4 linked regions of the Homo sapiens genome follow. The protein of the gene in region 2 interacts with the protein of the main gene of each other region in a pairwise test. Each region holds a gene or a part of one and is shown on either strand. Other genes may lie near its edges.

Region 1 (3,500 bases), on a different chromosome or scaffold from region 2:
AGGTAACCCTTTAACAGTGGTTTCTGTATACTATTTCCTAGTTCTATCAGTCATTAAGATTTTATAACACTCTAGTAGAGCTGCTAAAAATTAAAATTTATGAAAAAAGTGTTTTTTGGTTTTGGGTTTTTTTTTTGAGGCAGGGTCTCATTCAGTCGCCTAGGCTGGAATGCAGTGGCATGATCTTGGCTCATGGCAACCTCTGCCTCCCAGGTTCAAGCGATCCTCTGACCTCAGCCTCCTGAGCAGCTGGGACCACAGGAGTGGACCACCACACCTGACTAATTTTTATATTTTTTGGTAGAGATAGGGTTTCACCATGTTGCCCAGGGTTCTGGGCTCAAGCAATCCACCTATCTTGGCCTCTCAAAGTGTTAGGATTACAGGTGTGAGCTACCATGCCCAGCCAAAGTGAGTTGTTTAAACAAAAAGTCACAAACTAGTAAATCAAGAGCCAAATTAGAGACAGGGACATTTTTTTCTGTGAGCCACACAAGTTTTGTTTTTCAATTAGTTACCAAGATTTAATGTTCTTTTAAAATCCAGATTCACAGCTTCCTATTAAAAAACAGAATTTGGGAATACTGGACTGATGACTATAATCAGCTAGAGTTGAGTCACAGATGCCTCCCTGCCCTTGCCCCATTCTTCAGCCGGGTGTAATCTCAATCCTGCCCACTTTAGCCTTTTATTGTCTTCCTGGCCTTTGTAAATATTTGAATCTGCAACTGTTTTTGGTTTTTTTTTTTTTTTTTTTTTTTTGAGACAGAGTCTTGCTCTATCACCCAGGCTGGAGTGCAGTGGCACAAACTCAGCTCACTGCAGCCTTCACCTCCCGGGTTCAAGCAATCCTCCTGCCTCAGCCTCCCGAGTAGCTGGGATTACAGGCCATGTGCCACCACGCCTGGCTAATTTTCTGTATTTTTAGTAGAAACAGAGTTTCACTATGTTGTCCAGGCTGGTCTCAAACTCCTGAGCTCAGGCAATCCACCCGCCTCGCCCTCCCAAAGTGCTAGGATTACAGGTGTGAGCCACGGCACCCAGCCTGAATCTGCAATTTTAATGTACACATTAGACTCGTTTTTCTAACCTGGAGTTTCTGAAGAATTGGACAATGGAGCAGATGCTTCAGCTAAGGCAGCTAATGTAGCTAATACTGATGTAGAAGAGTTTCCAAACTGAACAGCAGATACACCCGTTTCATCTGTAAGAAAAAAGAAAATAGATTTGAATTTCTAAGGAGCTTAATCCAATGCATATTTCTGATATTCTATTTATCTTACTGACTCTTAAACAAAGCTTGGATAGCATTAGCTTTTGAAAGGTAATACTGCAGTAAATTTTGTAATATCACCTTTCTTCAGATTGTTTTGTCTCATAAAAATCTTTTTGCCAGTTATACCAAAGAAAACAAAGGTGGCTGATAGAATCTTACCCTCATTCTCCAACCGTCCTTTCTTACAAGGATGAATACCTACTAAAGCATAAAATCCCAAAGCCTATCCTATATGCATCTCAATACCTGTTGCCTTGGATGAATTTTCTGAAGATACCAGACCTGTTAGGTTCACCACCCCTCCAGGTCCAATGATAAACTGTGGTGTTGCAGCATGTATTGTCACAGTGTCAGGACTCTCTGGGTTTGTGTTGATTTGGTTCTGCATAGCAATCTAGGGAAAAAATGACCACAGTGTTTTCAGAATTATAACCAGAACATATAGCACAAATTCTCCATATAATACAAACACATATAAAGGAGTATTCTCTAAGAAGAATCACATAGTACAAGTGGAAATATTTGTCTAAGGTCCACTGACAGTGTAGGGGCACATCATGGGTATATATTTATATCCCAAGTCCCCCTCTTAGGTAAAGCAGCAAAATCCTGGGAGAGGAGAAACGAGTATCTAAAAGGTTTTTAACAGAACACAGAACAACTGGACATTAAGCTGGCTGAGGTGGCAGGTGCCTGTAATCCCAGCTATTCAGGGGGCTGAGGCAGAAGGAGTGGTTAAGCCCAGGAGTTCAAGACCAGCATGGGCAACATAGTGAGACCCCCATCTCAAAAAACAAAAACAAAAACAAAACAAACAAAAAATATTTCTGCCCTGTAGCTATAGGAATTTAATTATTTCTTCTACGTTTGGCAATACATAATACCACATATATAAAGCATGTCCTTCTCAATTAATTGTTCCCCATCTTCAACTCCAACCCCCAAACTGCACTCTTAGGAGTAAAAGGAATGAAAAGAGGCATGGTAGAATTCATTTTCCTGAACATAAAACATCTTTTAAGTAACTAGTGGAAGCTCAAAGGAGTCAGATAGTCTTAGAAAAGAAGAGTTCTACTGCTGGGATTGGGAACAAACAGGCAAGAAGAGGCAGTAATTAAAGAAGATAATTTATATTATGTCATCTGGCTGAAAATAAGAGAAGTAATGTTGGTTACTAGAAAAATCTTCCCAAAAGCCAAAAACAACAGATATTTTTGAGGATGCTGAAAGATAAAAGAAACAAATCAAACTGCATCACTCACTCAAGGAATGATATTATGGTTGCTAATATATATGTTTTTTAATTTTTATAAAGTCATTTATAGTAGACTTGGAAAAACCATATAGTATCAAAATGCAACAAAAATAATAGAATAAAATGTCTAGGGCCAGGCGCAGTGGCTCACGCCTGTAATCCCAGCACTTTGGGAGGCCGAGGCAGGCAGATCGCCTGAGCTCAAGAGTTCAACACCAGCCTGGGCAACATGATGAAACACCATCTCTACTTAAAACACAAAAAATTAGCCAGGCATGGCAGCATGCACCTGTAGTCCCAGCTATTTGAGAGGCTGGGGCAGGAGAATTGCTTGAACCCAGGAGGCAGAAGTTGCAGTGAGCCAAGATCGTGCCACTACACTCCAGCCTGGGGGACAGATCAAGACTCTGGCTCAAAAAAAAAAAAAAAAAAAAAAAAAAGGTCTAAAGGGAAATTCAGAAACTTAAAAAACAGAAAGTAATCACCTTATCTAATGTTAATGAAGAGACTGGCCTTATAATCAAGAAAATGAATAGTAATAAACAAAGAGGAAGTGAAAGAGAAAAAGGCCTATCCAAAATAACTAAGTCCAAAATGAAAGGCTACAAACAATAGTTTAAATCATGCACAATATAAGAGATCCCTCTACTGATAAGGCTTCTTTTTCTTTATTTTCTTAAATTAAAAGCCAAAAGTTACCTGTAATATCTCTGCTAAATCTTCATTTCCATTGTCTATTGAAATATCAAATGCAGTTTTACAAAATTTACTTTGCGTGTGTACATCAGCACCATATTTGATTAAAAGTTCCACCACCTCTTGATGATTGTGTTCTGTGGCCCAATGGAGAGCTGTCATCTTTAACATGTCCTTTGCATTGACATCAGCACCATGCTACAAAAATATTTCAAAGAGTTTACTAAAATATGAAATATCACATAAAAAATTCCTGATATGAAATTATTAGTT
Region 2 (3,500 bases):
CTCAGGAGTTTAAGACCAGCCTGGGAAACATGGTGAAACCCCCGTCTCTACTAAAAATACAAAAATTAGCTGAGTGTGGTGGGGTACATCTGTGGTCTCAACTACTTGAGACTGCAGTGGGCCGTGACTGTGCCACTGCACTCTAGCCTGGGCGAGAGAGTGAGATCCTGTCTCAAAAAAAAAAAAAAAAAAGAAAGAAAGAAAGAAAAAGAAAAAGAAATGTTTGCCGAATTAAATGGCATGAATGCCAAGCAGAGGACATCACAGAGAAGGCATGCCCCAAATCTACCAGTGAGAGAGGTGGGAGGTGGTCCCCAGTCACCTCTGCTTGACATCACAACACACCTTTCTCCAGCCTTCTCCAAAGGAACAAGGATGCTAAGAAGCTTTGGGCTGAGGCGTAGCTCTGAGAGCTGGGTACTGCATCGCAGGGATTCCCAGGGTCCTTACCACTGTCTGGAAGCAGGAGTGCAGCTGCGTCAAGAACGGGGGTTTGTCAAGCAGGGCCAAGACTCGCTTTTCTACCATGGTGCACTCCACGTCATCATCCTGAATCACCACATCCTTCTTCAGGATTTTGATTGCATACAGTTCTTCTGTGCCCTTCCTGTCGGCAAGCATCACCTGAGAACACGTCAAGAACAACCTGAACACTTGTAAGCACATATCTTGGGGGGCAGAGGGAAGGAACCAGGCCAGGTGACGGCTCAGTGACAGTTTGTGCACCTTTGTCAATGTGGAACATAAAAATATTAAACTTTATGTGCAAATTTGTAAATTCTACACATCACTACAAATTCAGTCCCTCCAGCATTTGCAAAACTTCAATGCTGCCAAGATTTGTAAATGGTATAGGCCACTGCCACATAATGGCACTATTTTGGCTGCTAAAATGAATACTCAACATTCTCTATCAGGATTAGTCTGGAATAATGCACATTTTTCAGGAGTATCCTTAGAGTGAAAGCTGACTGACATTTATAATCTCTCAAGTCAAGAACCTAGACTTGAAATCAGTTCCTGCGTCTATGAAATGTGGGGCCACAGAAACCGAATGGAGATACAGGCAAATTGCTGAAGACCCCATGTCAGTATCTCTTAATGATTGTATTTGCTTACTACAAGTGAACATTTAATTTTTAGTTGTGAAAACTATTCATCAACCAGCATTTCTGAGCATCCCTTCTGTTCTGAACACTGAGAAATAGTAACAACACAGTGAACCCACTATAGCTTTTTGGATGCAGTTGCTTTTAAGGAAGTAGAAACCAGGTGAGGACTGTGCACTCTGATCTGAGAGACCAAATAAATGCCTCTTTAGCGACTAAGATGGACCCTAATGTCGCAGGCATTTGAACCAGAGTGACTCCATCTTGAATAAGGGATGGGAAAAATAAGGCTGAGATCTGCTGGGCCGCATTCCCAGGAGGTCAGGCATTCTTAGTCGCAGGATGAGATAGGAGGTCAGCAGGGCTAGTATCACAAGACACAGGTCAGAAAGACCCTGCTGATAAAACAGGATACAGTAAAGAAGCCAGCCAAAACGCACCAAATCCAAGATGGCGATGAGAATAACCTCTGGCTACCCTCATTGCTCATTATATGCATTATTAGCATGTGAAAAGACACTCCCACCAGCACCCCAACAGTTTACAAATGCCATGGCAATGCCCAGAAGTTACCTTATATAGTCTAAAAGATGGAGGAAGCCTCAGTTCTGGGAATTGCCCACCCCTTTCCCAGAAAACTCATGAATAATAAAACCCTTGTTTAGCATACGATCAAGAAATACCTCTAAGTATACTCAGTCAAGCAGCCCATGCTGCTGCTCTGCCTATGGAGTAGCTGTTCTTTCATTTCTTTACTTCTCTAACAAACTGACTTTCACTTTATTCTGTGGACTCGCTCTGAATTCTTTCTTGCTTGAGGTCCAAGAACCCTCCTCTTGGGGTCTGGATCAGGACCCCTTTCTGGTAACATTAAAGTTAAGGAAATAGTTATCTATGGGTTGAGGGTTCAGGGCCCAGCTGGCATGGCAAATTTCTAAATCCCTACAGCTACAAGATAAACCACTCTCGCTAAACTCCCTAGCAGTAGGAGCTATCAGGCCCCTCCTAACTTTGATTGACAACTCAGATCACTATGACTTGGACTGGACAGAGAACTGGCCTTACAAACATTCTTTTCTGTGATGCAACTGCAGACCTGAAGCCAGTTTCAGCAGCTTGCAGAGCCTGCACACAAACTGTTTTTGGGTCCTGTGGTTCACCTTTTGATCTAAAGAGCCAACTTCCACCTTTTTTTATTTATTTACTTTTTTTGAGACGGAGTCTCCCTCTGTTGCCCAGGCTGGAGTGCAGTGGCATGATCTTGGCTTACTGCAACCTCCACCTCCCAGGTTCCAGCGATTCTCCTGCCTCAGCTTCCCGAGTAGCTGGGATCACAGGTGCACACCACCACACCCAGCTAATTTTTGTATTTTTAGTAGAGATGGGGTTTCACCATTTTTGCCAGGCTGGTCTCAAACTCCTGACCTCAAGTGGTCCACCTGCCTTGGCCTCCCAAAGTACTGGGATTACAGGCATGAGCCACCATGCCTAGGCAAATTCCACCTCATTTTAATGCTAAGTCCCCACCCCAAAGTGAACATAAGATGCATGTTACATATATGTTCATCCATTGTGCCTGTGCTAGGCTTCCCTCACAGATAAGTCAAGCTTTCCCCCCAAACCTGTTGAATATGGATGACTCTACTGTGTAACATGGACCCTGTGAGGCATAAAACCCAACCTGCCCTTTCTCTCCTCAAAGAGAGGGCACCTTCATTTCACACCATAGACTTTCTTTTATGGGTTTGCAAACTGATACCACCAATAAACCTCTCCTTTCTACCATTTAGCCATCCTGGTGGTCTTCTGGATGACTGTACAAATCACAGGGAAATCTTTTTTTTTTTTTTTTTTTGAGACGGAGTCTCACTGTCTCCCAGGCTGGAGTGCAGTGGTGCGATCTCGGCTCACTGTAAGCTCCGCCTCCCAGGTTCACGCCATTCTCCTGCCTCAGCCTCCCAAGTAGCTGGGACTACAGGCGCCCACCACCATGCCCAGCTAATTTTTTGTATTTTTAGTAGAGATGGGGCTTCACCGTGTTAGCCAGGATGGTCTTGATCTCCTGACCTTGAATCACAGGGAAATCTAATGTGCTATTCTGCAAACTACGAGGAGAACAAAACTGATTCGACATTCTCTGCAGAAGCCCCTGCAATTTGCAGACGACTGTCCTCTTACCTTTCCAAAACTCCCCTTTCCCAACACCATGAGGAAATTGAAGTCCGTGAGTTTCACTCGGTCAAGGTTGTTGGAAGGTTGTTTCCTGTCTTCAGAGGGACTGATGACTTTGTTGCCAGCAGGGCCAAGTTTGGCTTTCTAAATAACAAGCACAAATGGGAAACACGTGGGTCATTTTTCTGGGGAAAGAGTGACAGAAACCACCGTGTTGTA
Region 3 (2,362 bases), on a different chromosome or scaffold from region 2:
GAAATGAAGCCCAAAACAGTCAATCGTGAACTCTAAGCCGATCAGGTGGGAAAGCCGGCATCTCTAGAATGAAAACCTAAGGCTGCTTCTCCCACTTTGCCTGAGCAAATATAGTGAGATTACACAGCAAGGCATGTGTAAATTGCCAGTGCCTATTTCTCAGAACCAGATTTGGTGATCGCAAAGACTGACGTGGCCCTCTAGGTGTGCCTATACTGCACCAGAAGAGCAAGCCGAGAAAGCAGTGCTCAAACCTAGAGCATTCAACCTTTCATACCGATAAAGGCTTTAAAAAAAAAAAAAAAAAAAAAAAAAGCCCAGGTAAGTGAAAAAGCCGCTTTCGGTCAACGACTTAAGTCTTTACGGCTGTGAGCGCTATGGGCCGCGGTAGCTTTCCGTTAACTTCAGATCCGATTGTCGCCCCACTGCCAAAGTTACCTTCCAACATCGTTACTGTTGCACTTTACGCAGTCAAGTGTCCAACTCCTCAGATGAGCAAGTGGTCGGCCCTAAAAAGGGCCTTTGGGATCGAAACGTGCAAAGCTGGAGCGGCGGCCTAGCCTCCGAAGCCGTACAGGGTGCGCCCCTGGCGCTTGAGCGCGTACACCACATCCATGGCTGTGACGGTCTTGCGCTTGGCGTGCTCGGTGTAGGTGACTGCGTCCCGAATCACATTCTCCAGGAACACCTTCAGCACACCGCGGGTCTCCTCGTAAATGAGGCCAGAGATCCGCTTAACGCCGCCACGCCGAGCTAGACGCCGAATGGCAGGCTTGGTGATGCCCTGAATGTTGTCTCTCAAGACCTTGCGGTGGCGCTTAGCGCCCCCTTTGCCTAAGCCTTTTCCGCCCTTTCCTCTGCCGGACATGACCGCTGGAGCCCGATAGACAGCTTCTGTCAAGGCGAGCACCGTCTTCCCCTGATATACAAGAGTATCGGACCAGATTGAAAACCGAAAGCGCGCCGGCGGGAAGCGTTCTCAATTGTCCCCGCCCTCTCGACATTTCGTCATTTCTTTTCTGTTTTCCTCTCCCTCCTCCTCCACTCTGCTCAGGTCCCTCTCACTCTTTTTTTTTTTTAACCGCTACGCCACAGTCCCCGGGAGAATTCAGATCCCAACCGGGGCTTCCGGATTCTGTAGTGGCTTTGGCCTGTGTCTGGTCTGAGGACGCCCGGAAGGCATTGCACTGAGGCTAAGGGAAAGGTCTCTGGAGGGAGCCTCAGGAAGAGCAAATGGAGGCCAGAGACTGGCAGGAGCGCGCCAGCGCAGGATTTAATCCCGACGAGCGGATTCAGAGCCGTGCTTATATAAAGCTTCAGGAAGCGCCGTTCCGACGATGAGGTCGACACGCGAGAGGCGACCTCAAGAGCGGCGGCGCCAGGGATCTGTGCGCCAAGGGAGGACGGGAGGGAGCAGGTTCGCCATAATTCCTGGCTCCAGGCTCTGTTTTGTTGGACCGAGCCACTGTATTTTAGCTCACACAGGAGAATTCTGGCCCTGGGAAAATTGGTCTCAGCATGCTGCCAAGCTTTCTCATGGACGTCAGCGAATCCCAACACACTGTCGGTCAAAGCCGTGCTGGAAGAAACAAAACAGTTCTCCCTCGGTAGAACTGAGAGGGGATTGGTCCAGGGCCCCCGCCGATACCAAAATCCAGGTTGCTCAAGTCTCTCATAGAAAGTGGCGTAGTATTTGCACATAACTATGCACATCCTCCCGTGTACTTTAAATAGTCTCTAAATTACTTCGTAACACCTAATCCAGTGTAAATGCTATGTAAGTAATTGTTATACTGTTTTTATTTTTACTATCTTTTGTTGTACTTTTTTTTAAAAAAGAAATTCATTTGTTTAATATTTTCGGTCTTGGGGAACCCGCGTATATGGAGGGCCTGCTACATAGAGAAGACTGAGGGATATTCTGTGCATCCGTTTCTACGGATCCTCTAAATCGGCCTTTGTTTTCAGCCAGGATTTAGTGCCCAGCTGTGTCCTTTGGAGGCCCCACATGGAGCTAGCAAAGTTTGCTAAATCGGGTTTTGCAAGAGGACTGTCTGCTCCATACTGGGAGTAGTTACCGCAAACTGCCCTATGAAATTGGTTGGGGTTCTTACTGTTAGCATGTTTATTACTTTATCAGGGCTCTCTGTAGGAGAGTCTATGAGAAAATCTTCTGGTTTCTGCTGAAAGAATCGTGTTTTGTTGGGGTTTTTTTCCCGAAAAATATTATTTTTAAAAACTCTTCTGTGCCCTGTTTAATCTCTCCCTTGGATCCACCTTCTGTGTGCTCATAAATCGTAAATCTGTATTCAGACTTCTGGACTCGAGACACGTAGATCCACCTGGTGGTTCTTCAGTCATT
Region 4 (4,217 bases), on a different chromosome or scaffold from region 2:
CCTGAAATGAGTTTAGTTCAAGGGGCTTTTTTACAATACCAATTATCCTAAAGTAAAGATGACTGCCTATATTTAAATTTCCTGACTCCGTAGGTTGTCAATAAACAGGGACTATGATCTGAAAGCAAAGTTCAGTTTAAAAAGAAAAGTATGTGCTTGTATGAGTCACAAAAAAGGGCTAAGTACAAAAGAACTGCTGAGGTAAACATGAACATCGTTCTGTGAACTTATGATTTAAATAAAATCTTTATCACCACACTTGCCAAGAGCAATATATCTTATCATGAACGTACATAAAAAACTCTTGTGTCTTTCCTCTTAATACTCGGAACATTATTTTTATTTTTATTACGAAGTTTGCATTGGAGAATATTGTAACTCACTGCACCTAGGTAAAAACTAAAGACATAAATCTGATGTTAGTTCTAAAAATCTACAAGGGTAATGATATGAATTTCACAGACATGGAAGCCTTGTTCAGAATAGATGATAATAGAAAGGCTCGGTAGAGCCAGGTTCATGAGTGTGTGACCTGTGCAGAAGTGGGTGCTTAGAAGGCCCATGGCTTGGGTTAATGCTCTGCTGTTGCCGTCTTGAAATTCTTCACAATTTATGAACAAGGGAACTTCATTTTCAGTTTACACGGAACCCTGCAAATTATGTACTTGGCTCTATCTTCCTTTGCAAACGGAGAAACAGGCTTCAAGAGTTTTGAAACTGCCATAATAGATCCAAAAACTGTGTATGCTTTTCACATCTGTACAATTTTGTTACGTATTTATAAACATCTGCTGAATGGATGACTCTATGTATTGGCCCACATCACTTCAGAACTAGGTCTTGAACTTAGGGATTGTGGCAAGAAGGAAAAAGGCAGCTTCCGGTGGCTCACAGGGCAGGCCAGGTGGCTCACACCTGTGAGCATTTTGGGAGGCCAAGGCGGGTGGATCACTAGAGTCCAGGAGTTCGAGACCGGCCTGGGCAATATGGCAAGATCCTATCTCTACTAAAAATACAAAAATAGCCTGGGGTGGTGGCACGCGCCTGTAGTCCCAGGTACTCCGGAGGCTGAGGCAGGAGGCACTTGAACCTGAAGGTCGAGGCTGCAGTGAGACCTGATCTCAACACACACAAAAGAATGACTCTCAGGCTTCTTTTTTTCTAATGGATGGAAGTGAAACCTCGAAAGCACATGGTCAAGTGCCTGACTCTTCCAAAACAAAAACAAAAACAAAAAAACTAGCCTCAGCAAGGAGGTCCGTAGCCTCCAGCTGACCGGATTTTCAGTCACAGAACACCGGGGACCTAAAAAAGGGTCAATCTCAGCATCGTGCACTCAACCCAGCTCCTTCCGCCCCTCGAGCCCAGGCTGGGAGGAGCCGAGGAACCGAAAGAGAAAACAGGCCGCGCGGGCGGCAGAGGAGCCGGGCGCCGCAATGGACGTGCGGGCGCTGCCGTGGCTGCCGTGGCTGCTGTGGCTGCTGTGCCGGGGCGGCGGCGATGCGGACTCCCGCGCCCCCTTCACCCCGACCTGGCCGCGGAGCCGCGAGCGTGAAGCCGCCGCCTTCCGGGTACCGAGCGCGCGCCTCCCCGGGATCTGTCCCTGCTCCCTCACTTCCTGTCCCGGGTCTGGGCTGCGGAAGAGGGCCCCCGAGAGCTGACCCTGCTCGTGGGCACCCGTGGCTCTGCGATGCGTCTGGGGCCCTGAGCTGCGGGTGCAAAAGCCAGCTTCTCTCTCCCCTCTCCTTGTGCCATGGTGTCACTCCCCCATGCCTTTGCTAACCAAAAGACTTGATTTTCCAGAAGAGATTTGTCGCTATGGATTTTTGGGACGCACCCAAATAAATCCATAGATACGTCCAAAGTGTCCTTGGTGGGAAGAAGCACCCCCTTTTAGCAATCCCCTCTATCGTTGCCACTGGCTTCCAAAGCTCTTCTATTTCTCTTTTATGAGAACCAGAAACAGGGAGCAGCCTGTTGGTGGAAGAAACCTGTCGTGTTTTTTTTTCCCGAGGAGGGCGCTAGTGATCAGAAGTTAGAAACAAAGAGCCTGTCTTTAGCCAGATTAAAGAATCCTGATGGTTTATGATTCTCCTTAAACTAACGCACCACTTTAAAAGTTCTTCCTGCCTTGGCGGAGACTGAGTTGAAGAAAAGAGAAGCATTTAATTTCCTTTTCATATTATTATACGAAATATAATATAATTTATATTTTATAATATTTATAATAAATACTTAGATTTGAGTCTAGCATGAAAACTCTGGAAGGGACCAGTTAGCTGAGCACAAATAATGATTTTCCTGAAACCAAGGAAACTGCAAGGGATGCCGATTTAGTGTTCGCCTCACTATGTTCTAGATAGCTGATACTATTTAACACATTTTTAAATTCATGAAAGATGCCATTATCATGATTTAATTTATTGGAAAAGAAAATTCTTTCATTCTGAATCAAACATAAGTCTGAGTTGAGTAATATTGCTCAAGGAAGTGTATCTTTTTTCCTGGTGTTTGTTGGAATTTCTCACAGGATTTCATAGCTGTGCTCTTTTCCCCCGACTCTCCTGGAAAGCTCCAATGTTTAGGAAGGCCAGCCTTCCCTGATTCTGTCCACTCTTACGTTTTGTCCAAACCGAGATGTGTACTGTTATCTCCACTTTATTATTCTTGAGTTCAGTTCTAGCTTTCAAAACCAGAAGTCCTCTTACTCTTTCAAGAACAAAATTCTGGCCTGTATTCTACCCCTATCCTCAACTTACGTTCGTTTTCCTGGTAAACGAAACCCCTTAGGGGAAAAGTCAGTTTCACCTTTATTGGTAACGTATTCATTGGCTAAATAAATAAACACACTGTCAGGCTCCTAAAAATAATATTTCAGGACAAAGCTCAAAGGGCTAGACTTATAAATATATTTTTAACATTTATTTAGATTTTAGATAATTTATAAATATATATGTGTATAATTTATGTAGTGACTCATACTGGTCCTGTAAAGAGGCCATACCCTGATGAATGTCTAGAAAATGTAACTTTTCTCAGGAGAAATACAAAGAAACAGGTTGAAAGATGGAAAGTTGGAAGTGGAGGAGGATCGAATTATGAAGACTCTTAGTACATTTTAAAAACCTCGGGTTAAGAAATACTGAAAAAATTTTCAAAGCAATTGCTGCCTGTAAGAATTTGCTTCATGAGATGGATACCCAAAAAAGAGAACATTGAGGCTTCAACGCACAGTTGCTGGAAACTGAACACCTCTCGGTGCTTAGTTGGACTTTATCCAAGAATGCTTTAAAACCGATTTTCTACCTTAGTGGTCCCCAATCTTTTGGCACTAGGGACCGGATTCATGGAAGACATTTTTTCCATGGACGGGAGGAGGGAAGTGGGGGAGATGGATGGATTTGGGATGAAAGTCTTTCATCTAAGATCATCAGGAATTAGTTAGATTAGTTAGCTGGAGATTGCTGTTCGGACTTGGGATAGAGAGCTGGACAGTGGGAAAGGTGGAAAGGGCCTTGCCTCCTTGGTAACCGTGAAACTTCTTGTTGAAATCAAGTTAATTCATTGGTGAATTGATGATTCAGGGGTTTGCAGCTGAAGATCTGGTTCAAGAAAGTCCTTGATTAATTAGTAATGTCTTTCATGGTCATGGGTTTAGAGAATGGTGAAGGTTTTAAAATTTGTTTTAATCTTAGCCTTAGATAGTTTTGTAAGTTTCCCAGGAATGCACGTTAAATGAAAGTTAGGTTAGCCCATGACTTTCCCACAAAATATTATAGTATTGTTCAGTGAAAACTAGACTCCACTATGGTTTATTATGGGATGCCTCACAAGACACCTGACTTTGGATGGCACCCCTTATCTCTGCACTTTCACTCCTTTAGAAACTTCCAGTGCTCAGGAAGCTCTTAACTATTGGATTTAGCCTACTCTCCTTTGTGCCAAAACCTAGCTATGCCCTCATATTTACTGATGCTCATTATTTTACCACAGAACATTTGGTATTCTTATCCTTTTGGGAGGCACAGACCCAATATTGGATCCAATAAAATTTGCTTGATACACTCACTTTAGAATAATATCTATGCCAAAGTACATGTGATTTTACATAAAATTTCCAAAGCTTTACCTTAAGACCAGTTGCCGTAATGACACAGGTTATATTATTATAAGATTATTTATATATTTAGGAATATTTATTTATGTGTAAATAGATG

What was found.
Region 1: the proteins of PRKCA (region 2) and GABPB1 interact in binary tests that used the Homo sapiens proteins (3 or more experiments, as listed by UniProt).
Region 3: the proteins of PRKCA (region 2) and H4C14 interact in binary tests that used the Homo sapiens proteins (3 or more experiments, as listed by UniProt).
Region 4: the proteins of PRKCA (region 2) and CTSO interact in binary tests that used the Homo sapiens proteins (3 or more experiments, as listed by UniProt).

What each region holds. Positions count from the first base shown.
Region 1 is NC_000015.10:50,299,699-50,303,198, forward strand, and holds part of GABPB1 (GA-binding protein subunit beta-1 isoform beta 2), read right to left. Parts: intron 3,426-3,500; coding exon 3,231-3,425; intron 1,671-3,230; coding exon 1,559-1,670; coding exon of another isoform or gene 1,523-1,558; intron 1,205-1,522; coding exon 1,091-1,204; intron 1-1,090.
Region 2 is NC_000017.11:66,732,613-66,736,112, reverse strand, and holds part of PRKCA (protein kinase C alpha type), read right to left. Parts: intron 3,426-3,500; coding exon 3,288-3,425; intron 625-3,287; coding exon 451-624; intron 1-450. UniProt on the Homo sapiens protein: Calcium-activated, phospholipid- and diacylglycerol (DAG)-dependent serine/threonine-protein kinase that is involved in positive and negative regulation of cell proliferation, apoptosis, differentiation, migration and adhesion, tumorigenesis, cardiac hypertrophy, angiogenesis, platelet function and inflammation, by directly phosphorylating targets such as RAF1, BCL2, CSPG4, TNNT2/CTNT, or activating signaling cascade involving MAPK1/3 (ERK1/2) and RAP1GAP.
Region 3 is NC_000001.11:149,831,191-149,833,552, reverse strand, and holds H4C14 (histone H4), read right to left. Parts: upstream 897-2,362; 5' UTR 869-896; coding exon 557-868; 3' UTR 501-556; downstream 1-500. UniProt on the Homo sapiens protein: Core component of nucleosome. Nucleosomes wrap and compact DNA into chromatin, limiting DNA accessibility to the cellular machineries which require DNA as a template.
Region 4 is NC_000004.12:155,951,067-155,955,283, reverse strand, and holds the start of CTSO (cathepsin O preproprotein), read left to right. Parts: upstream 1-1,417; 5' UTR 1,418-1,436; coding exon 1,437-1,571; intron 1,572-4,217. UniProt on the Homo sapiens protein: Proteolytic enzyme possibly involved in normal cellular protein degradation and turnover.